Homo sapiens: one gene and its partner. The protein of the gene in region 1 interacts with the protein of each later gene in a pairwise test. Each region holds a gene or a part of one and is shown on either strand. Other genes may lie near its edges.

Region 1 (3,862 bases):
GCATCACATAGTATGTGATCCTCTGTGCCTGGCTTCTTTCACTTAGCATAGTATCTTCAAGGTTCATCCATGTTGTAGCATAGATCAGTGCTTCATACCTTTTTAAGGCTGAATAATATTCCATTGCATGGATAGACCACATTTTCCTTACCTGTTCGTCAGTTGGTAGACATTAAGATTGTTCCCACTTTTTGGCTGTTATTGCTGCTGTGAACATTCCTGTACAAGTTTTTGTGTGTGCAGATGCCGCCATTTCTCTTGGTCTATACCTAGGAGTAGAATTACTAGGTCATATGGTAATGATGTTTAAGCTTTTGGGGAACTGCCAGACTGTTTTCCAAAGCAGCTGTACCATTTTACATGACAATGATTTTAATTGACATCTTAATTGAAGGATTTAGAAAACAATGTTAAGATAAAAAAAGAAGGTGGCCGCCTGGAGCTGAGGTGGGCTCCCAGTGTGGGTCTGGGGAGGTGGAGCAGTGGGAGACCGTGCCAGTCCTCTGATTGGCTGGGAGAGAAGACGGCAAGTCCCAGGTCATCGCAGGGCGGGGAGCCAGGGAGTCACCAGCTCCAGGCTCTGCGTGGTGGTGCCCAGCGGAGGGGCCGGCTGAGATTCAGCCTGTACTCCCCGCCCCAACTGCATACCCAGGAAGCTGTGGGCAGGCGAAGGAGGTGCCTGGCATTGGCCTTTACACAGCCTCACAGTCATTGAGCAGTGAGGAATAACGTACGCAGTTCACAGAGGGGAAAACCAGGCTTCGGAGAGAAGGGCCTGCCCCACTTAGGAAGTGCGTGGGGCACCTGGTTTCTCCAAATCAGAGAGCTGCTGGTGTCAGGCAGCACTAGGCCAAGACCCGAGGCAGAATCAGGGCTGAGCTGCCTTCGCGTGTGCGTGTGTGTGTTTCCTATCTGACCGTTGCCTCTGTCCCACCAGCCCCAGGCCATTTACTGCAAGGATGTTCTGGACATTGAACAGTTCTCTACGGTCAAGGGCGTGGAGCTGGAGCCTACCGACCAGGACTTCTACCAGAAGTTTGCCACAGGCAGTGTGCCCATCCCCTGGCAGAACGAGGTGGGGGCCTGCCCTGCTGGTGGGGTGGGCTCCAGGAGGCTGCCCTGGGGACAGCTGTCACAGCCGCCTGCTCCTCAGCAGATGGTGGAGACCGAGTGCTTCCAAGAGCTGAATGTCTTTGGGCTGGATGGCTCAGTTCCCCCAGACCTGGACTGGAAGGGCCAGCCACCTGCACCTCCTAAAAAGGGACTGCTGCAGAGACTCTTCAGTCGCCAAGTAAGCCCCAGCAGCGGCCTACCTGGGCCCCTAACCTGGCTCCAGGGGACGGTGGGTGGGAGGCAGAGCCGGTGCCCGCATGCGCTGGGAGTGGGCGTCCTCCAGTCCTGTTGTGGTGCCCAGGGTCTCTGGCCTCATTCCCGCCTGTCCCCCACCCCTGGCTGGGCTCATGGCCTCTTTTCTCTTTCCAGAGGTGAGCAGTGTGGGCTCCCCGTGGGTTGGCCTTGCTGCCTGGCCTCGGGGAGCCACGGGCAGCCCTTCCATGGCAAAGGCAAGATGTGGGAGAAAGAAGTCTGGTGCCCGCCCCACTCCCCCTGCCCACTGCTTTGATCCCCTGCACCCTGGCCCCTTCGAGCTGCCAGCTTTGCTTCGCTTGTCTCCCCGTGCCCTGTCTCTGCCAGCCCCAGGGGAGAGGGCTGGGCAGAGGCCTTGCCCTGGCAGACCGTGGGATCTACCCAGCCCCCTTACTTCAGTCTGTTGCCGGCAGCCTCTGCAATGACGCCCACCCACGTGTGGCCTGAGCTGCTGCTCCAGGCTCCTTGTGGAGAGGCCCCTCCCCAGAGTGCACCCCTCAGGCAGCTCCTGGCCTGCCCTGGCAGGGTCGGCCCCATGTGACGTCCCTCGTGGTTAATGGCACCTGCTCTGCCTCTCTCCCTCCCTCCGTGTCTTCCCCGTCCCTCCAGGATTGCTGTGGAAACTGCAGCGACAGCGAGGAAGAGCTCCCCACCCGCCTCTAGCCCCCAGCCCGAGGCCCCCACCAGCAGTTGGCGGTAGCAGCTACTCCGAGCGCCGTTTACAGTTTTGCACAGTGATCTTCCCCATTGTCCACTCAAGTCGTGGCCTGGGGAACACAGACGGAGCTGTCCCCAGTGTCCTCCGTCCCTCAGCCCCTGGCCTGGCTGAGTTTGGCAGGGCCTGGGCCATCCCTGGGACAAAGGTGCGTCCCTTCAGCTCTTCTCCGTGGAGCTCGGGGCTTTCTGTATTTATGTATTTGTACGAATGTATATAGCGACCAGAGCATTCTTAATTCCCGCCGCAGACCTGGCGCCCCCGCCTTGGCTCCTGGGGGCAGCCAGCCCTGGCTGGGAGAGCGGGAGCTGGCAGAGGAGCCACTGCCAAACTCAAGGCTCCTCTGGCCCAGCTTGGATGGCTGAGGGTGGTCACACCCCTGAGCCTTCAGCACTGTGCTGGCCACCCCGGCCTCTGAGTAAGACTCGTGCCTCCCCCTGCTGCCCTGGGCTCAGGCTGCTACCCTCTGGGGCCCAAAGCTGTCCCTTCTCAGTGCTTGTCAGCGCTGGGTCTGGGGCCTCTGTATGCCCTAGGCCTGTGCCAAAGTGGCCAGAGATTGGGCTGCCTGTGATACCCATCAGCCCACTGCCCCGGCCGGCCCAGATAGGTCTGCCTCTGCCTTCCAGCTCCCACAGCCTGGTCCCTGATACTGGGCTCTGTCCTGCAGACACCTCTTTCAGAAACGCCCAAGCCCAGCCCCTAGGAGGGGGTGGGGCATCCCTGGTCAACCCTCAAACATTCCGGACTCCCCTCATAACAATAGACACATGTGCCCAGCAATAATCCGCCCCTTCCTGTGTGCGCCTGTGGGGTGCGTGCGCGCGCGTGTGTACCTGTGTGGGTGAAGGGGATAGGGCGAGGCTGTGCCTGTGCCCCAGGTCCCAGCCCTGGCCCTTCCCAGACTGTGATGGCCATCCTGGTCCCAGTGTTAGGGTAGCATGGGATTACAGGGCCCTGTTTTTTCCATATTTAAAGCCAATTTTTATTACTCGTTTTGTCCAACGTAAGCTGCCACATGTCTCTGTGTGAATAGTCCGAGCACAAACCTGGCTAGCCGCCCCTGCCTGCCTCTTTCTTGCTTCCGGTGCTCCAGGGGTCTTCCTGCTCCCCTGGCCCAGCTGGAAGCGGGAAGGGATTGGAGGTGGGCCTGGAGGGAAGCAGGGTGTGCCCTTCCGAGGCCCAGGAGCCCCCAGGGCTGACTCTGAACTAGCCTCTCCAGACAGCCAGGCTTTGGTAGCCTTTGGGCTCACCCAGTGGGTTTCCCAACTTCCTAAATGGGATGGGGCCTAAGGAAAGAAGCCTTGGGTACCCACTGGGATGTGGGTCTGTTTCTGACTGCTGGTAAGGCGGGCCCCGTTGGTGTCCTCCCCTCCAAGGCTAAGGTGGCCTGGCTGCCTAAATGTGGACGTAAGAGTAGGGTGGGAGCTGTGTAAGGAATGTCTGCCCCAGGCCTGCGTTACCTGGACGCCAGCCATGTACGGGCCCCGGGCTGAGGCACGTGCATCATATCCACCCCTCTGTTTTGCCCTTGACACATTATGGGCAAAGACCTAGACAGTGGGTGACGCTGGCAGATAGGCTGTGGCCAGTGTGGGAGAGTTCTCTGAAGACGGTGGTTGAGCCGGCCTCGAAGTGGACATTCACCTGGGAGGAAGGGGGACTGGGAGGCACTCAAGGGGAGCTTCCTGCCTGGGCTCTGGGGCTGAGAGCTTGTTGCCTACCAGTCTGTCCCAGATCTGGCAACCCCATCACTGCTCTATAGACTCCCAGTGTCCCCAGCTC
Region 2 (3,613 bases), on another chromosome or scaffold:
AAGGCCCCTCCTCCTGGGCCCTCCCAGGCATGCGCTCCACTGTACAGCTGGCGCACAGAGAAGGAGCCACTGAGCGACCCCGTGGGCACCTGCTACCTCTCCACAGATAACTTCACCCGAATTCTGGAGTATGCACCCTGCCGCTCAGGTAGGGGCAAGAGGGGGCCTGTGCCCCATGTCTGCCTTCTCATATACTTGAAGTGTCTCACATACTTAGGGTTGACTCGCACCTACCATGTGCCCCCATGAGGTTCTAGGTTGCTTAAGATAAAGGCTAACCCAGTTCGTTAGCCTTTATGCTTACTGTCTGGTCCAGGAAGGCCCTTTCTCTGGTTCTCTCTCCCACCTCCTTCCCTATGCCCTCTCTTCTTTCCTGGATGACCCATCTATGCAGGGCTCATTTTCACCACCTTCTCCCCTCACAGATTTCAGCTGGGCAGCAGGACAGGGTTACTGCCAAGGAGGCTTCAGTGCCGAGTTCACCAAGGTGAGAGAGTGGTCTGGGAGAGAAGGGGCCGTGGGTGGTGGACATGGGGGGATTGGGACCAGATGTTGGACTCCCCTCCTTTCACCCACAGACTGGCCGTGTGGTTTTAGGTGGACCAGGAAGCTATTTCTGGCAAGGTAAGTCCTGTCTCTGCCATTCTTTTTTTTTTTTTTTTTTTTTTTTGAGACGAAGTCTCACTCTGTCACCCAGGCTGGAGTGCAGTGGCACAACCTCTGCTGCCCAGGTTCAAGCGATTCTCCTGCCTCAGCCTCCCAAGTAGCTGGGATTACAGGCGCCTGCCACCGCGCCTGGCTAATTTTTGTAATTTTAGTAGAGAAGGGGTTTCACCATCTTGGCCAGGCTGGTCTTGGACTCCTGACCTCGTGATCCACCCCTCTTGGCCTCTCAAAGTGCTGGGATTATAGGCATGAGCCGCCGCGCCCTGCCTGTTTCTGCCATTCTTTAAGTCCCCTGGCACATAGCCTCCCACCCTACTCCCAATTCTCCTCTTCCTTTCCTGAAGCTTACATGCCACCACCCTCCCCATGCTTCCCTTTCTTGAACCAGACTTCTGAAATACTACCCAGTCAGCCCCCAGAGTCCCAAGCCCCCTCTGCCACTTCCTCTCCATCTACTCCCTCTTCATACTCTCTCCAGGCCAGATCCTGTCTGCCACTCAGGAGCAGATTGCAGAATCTTATTACCCCGAGTACCTGATCAACCTGGTTCAGGGGCAGCTGCAGACTCGCCAGGCCAGTTCCATCTATGATGACAGCTACCTAGGTGAGCAAGCAAGTGGGGAAGGGATGGCAGAGGGAGAACCTCAAGTGCTCCTGTCCCCACTCACCCCCTCGCCTCCCCTCTCCTACTCAGGCATCCCCAGCACCCCTGCCATACTTGTCATGTGCCTGCTGACTATGAAGGCCCAGTAGGGGTGGGGAAGGGATTGGTGGATAGGCCAGAGCAGAGGGGTCCTCAAAGCAGGAATCCTAACATCCACCCACCCTGTCCCCCAGGATACTCTGTGGCTGTTGGTGAATTCAGTGGTGATGACACAGAAGGTGAGTGTGTCCCCAGGCTGGGGCCAAGGGAGGGGGATGGTTAGAGGCACAGGGCCAGAGAGCCCATGAACTTGGCCACTTACCATTATCTGCTTCCCTTTCCCCACCCTTAGGTCACAACTTTCTCTTCTCTTTGCAGACTTTGTTGCTGGTGTGCCCAAAGGGAACCTCACTTACGGCTATGTAAGACCCAGCCTGACCCCTCACTTCCTCTCCTCCCCTGCCTAATCACAAAGAACCGTGCATGGCAGTTTGCAAGGGCTCAAAAAGGTGGATCAGAACATGGGCTCTGGAGGCAGACTGGCATTCAAGTTCTGGCACTTACTCTGGCAGAATCATTCTGCTCTTTATTCATACTCTGCTTCCTGCTGAACCTCTCTGAGCCTTCTTCTTCTCTGTATACTGGGATAACAATCGTTCTGACCTCACGAGGCTCTGGCAAGGATGAAATGAGAAAATGCATGTGAAAGTACTCAGTGAATTGTTAGGCAATGTACAACTGGCAGATGTTATTATTAGACCAGGACAAGTGCTTTTTAAAAGATACAGATAAGAGTGCCATCGGATTTCATTCAATTAACAACATTTATTAAGGCAAGGTAAGAGATAAGATGAATAAGGTATCATACCCCATCTTATAAGATGCTTCTAATCAAGTATGTTAGATAAGACACACATACAATTATGATCTAAAGTGGAGCAACTATTCATTCTCTACTCAGTGCATCAGGCACTATCTATTCATGATTTCTATTCTTCACAACAAGCCTATGGGGTAGATATTATCATCTGTATTTTGCATATGAGAACACTGAGGTTCTAAGAGACCAAGTAAGTTGCTTAAGATCACCCAGTTAGTAAGTAGGTTTAAAATCAGGTCTCTCTTAATCCAAAATCAGCATTCTTTCTGCATTTTGGTAAACTTCAGCAAAGTGGATACAGTGGCATAGCAGTTTAGGGGAAAGAATAATCTCCTTTCTAGGAAAAGGATGGTAACAAGTTTGGGGAGTCAGGAAATAAAAATTTTAAATTTTTAAAAAGGAAGAGGACAGATGAGAGAAGGTTCTATGAAGGTTCAGCAGAGATGAGGCAGGAGGGCATCCTGTGCAGGAGCATGAATGAGGTGGAAGAAAAGGAAACAATTTCAGCCCAACTTAGCAGACTCATGAGCTGATTGAGGATGAGTAGAATATGGAAAGGTTGAGCAAAAACAGATAGGTTAGGGCCAGATTCTCCAGAGCTTTGGAGGACCAGCCAAGAAGTTGAGACTTTGGGCAGTGACTGCAGGGGGCCACTGGATTTCCAAGCCAGAGGTAGCCTCCTAGATCTGCTGGGAGAGCTGGAGGCAGGGACATTGTCAAGACATCTGTCCAGCAGTCCTGGGAAAGGGCTCACACCAGGATTCAAGAGGCCTGGTGGGGCCAGTCACTAAGGGAATATAGGGGAGAAATGGTGTTTGTGGTTCGGGGGACTGGAGGATGAGGATGACTTAGGTTTTGAACGTGATGGGTTTGAGGCACCAGCACACATTCAGTCATAATTATTATTGAGTGCCTACTACTCACCAAGCATGACTTTAGGTTCTGAGGAGAAAGCAAAGAACAAAATCAAGTTCCTGCCCCTATTGATCTTACATTCTAGTGGGTAGAGAGGGACAACGAACAGATAAATACAAAATCTGTCAGTGGTTGGTGATTGATAGGGAGAAAAATAGTGAAGCAGACATAGGGTGGAACTACCTGGCATAGAGGTGGGAATATGAGGGCAAAGCTGAAGAGGGAGCTAGGGACAGTGGTCTGCGTCTCTAAGGAATGCCTGCCCCTGGGTGTCCTGTACACATCTGTTCTTTAACCATGGGATATTCTGGGAGTCCAGGACCAATGGGCCTATCTCTTCATCTCCCAGGTCACCATCCTTAATGGCTCAGACATTCGATCCCTCTACAACTTCTCAGGGGAACAGGTAAGGATACCCCTCAACCCCACCCCAGCTTGGCCTCTGTCAACGAAGCCCCAGCCCTGACCTAATAATGTCAGCCCAACTTCCCAGCCCCTCTTGATCCTGT

The links.
Region 2: the proteins of GRK6 (region 1) and ITGA5 interact in a two-hybrid assay, tested with the Homo sapiens proteins (one large-scale study listed by BioGRID and IntAct).

Annotation. Positions count from the first base shown.
Region 1 is NC_000005.10:177,439,763-177,443,624, forward strand, and holds the end of GRK6 (G protein-coupled receptor kinase 6), read left to right. Parts: intron 1-151; exon of another isoform or gene 152-269; intron 270-937; coding exon 938-1,075; intron 1,076-1,156; coding exon 1,157-1,291; intron 1,292-1,482; coding exon of another isoform or gene 1,483-1,488; exon of another isoform or gene 1,489-1,591; intron 1,592-1,972; coding exon of another isoform or gene 1,973-1,974; coding exon 1,975-2,028; coding exon of another isoform or gene 2,029-2,065; 3' UTR 2,066-3,129; downstream 3,130-3,862.
Region 2 is NC_000012.12:54,405,767-54,409,379, reverse strand, and holds part of ITGA5 (integrin alpha-5 precursor), read left to right. Parts: intron 1-27; coding exon 28-148; intron 149-425; coding exon 426-487; intron 488-578; coding exon 579-624; intron 625-1,144; coding exon 1,145-1,270; intron 1,271-1,503; coding exon 1,504-1,548; intron 1,549-1,687; coding exon 1,688-1,731; intron 1,732-1,873; exon of another isoform or gene 1,874-1,983; intron 1,984-3,453; coding exon 3,454-3,510; intron 3,511-3,613.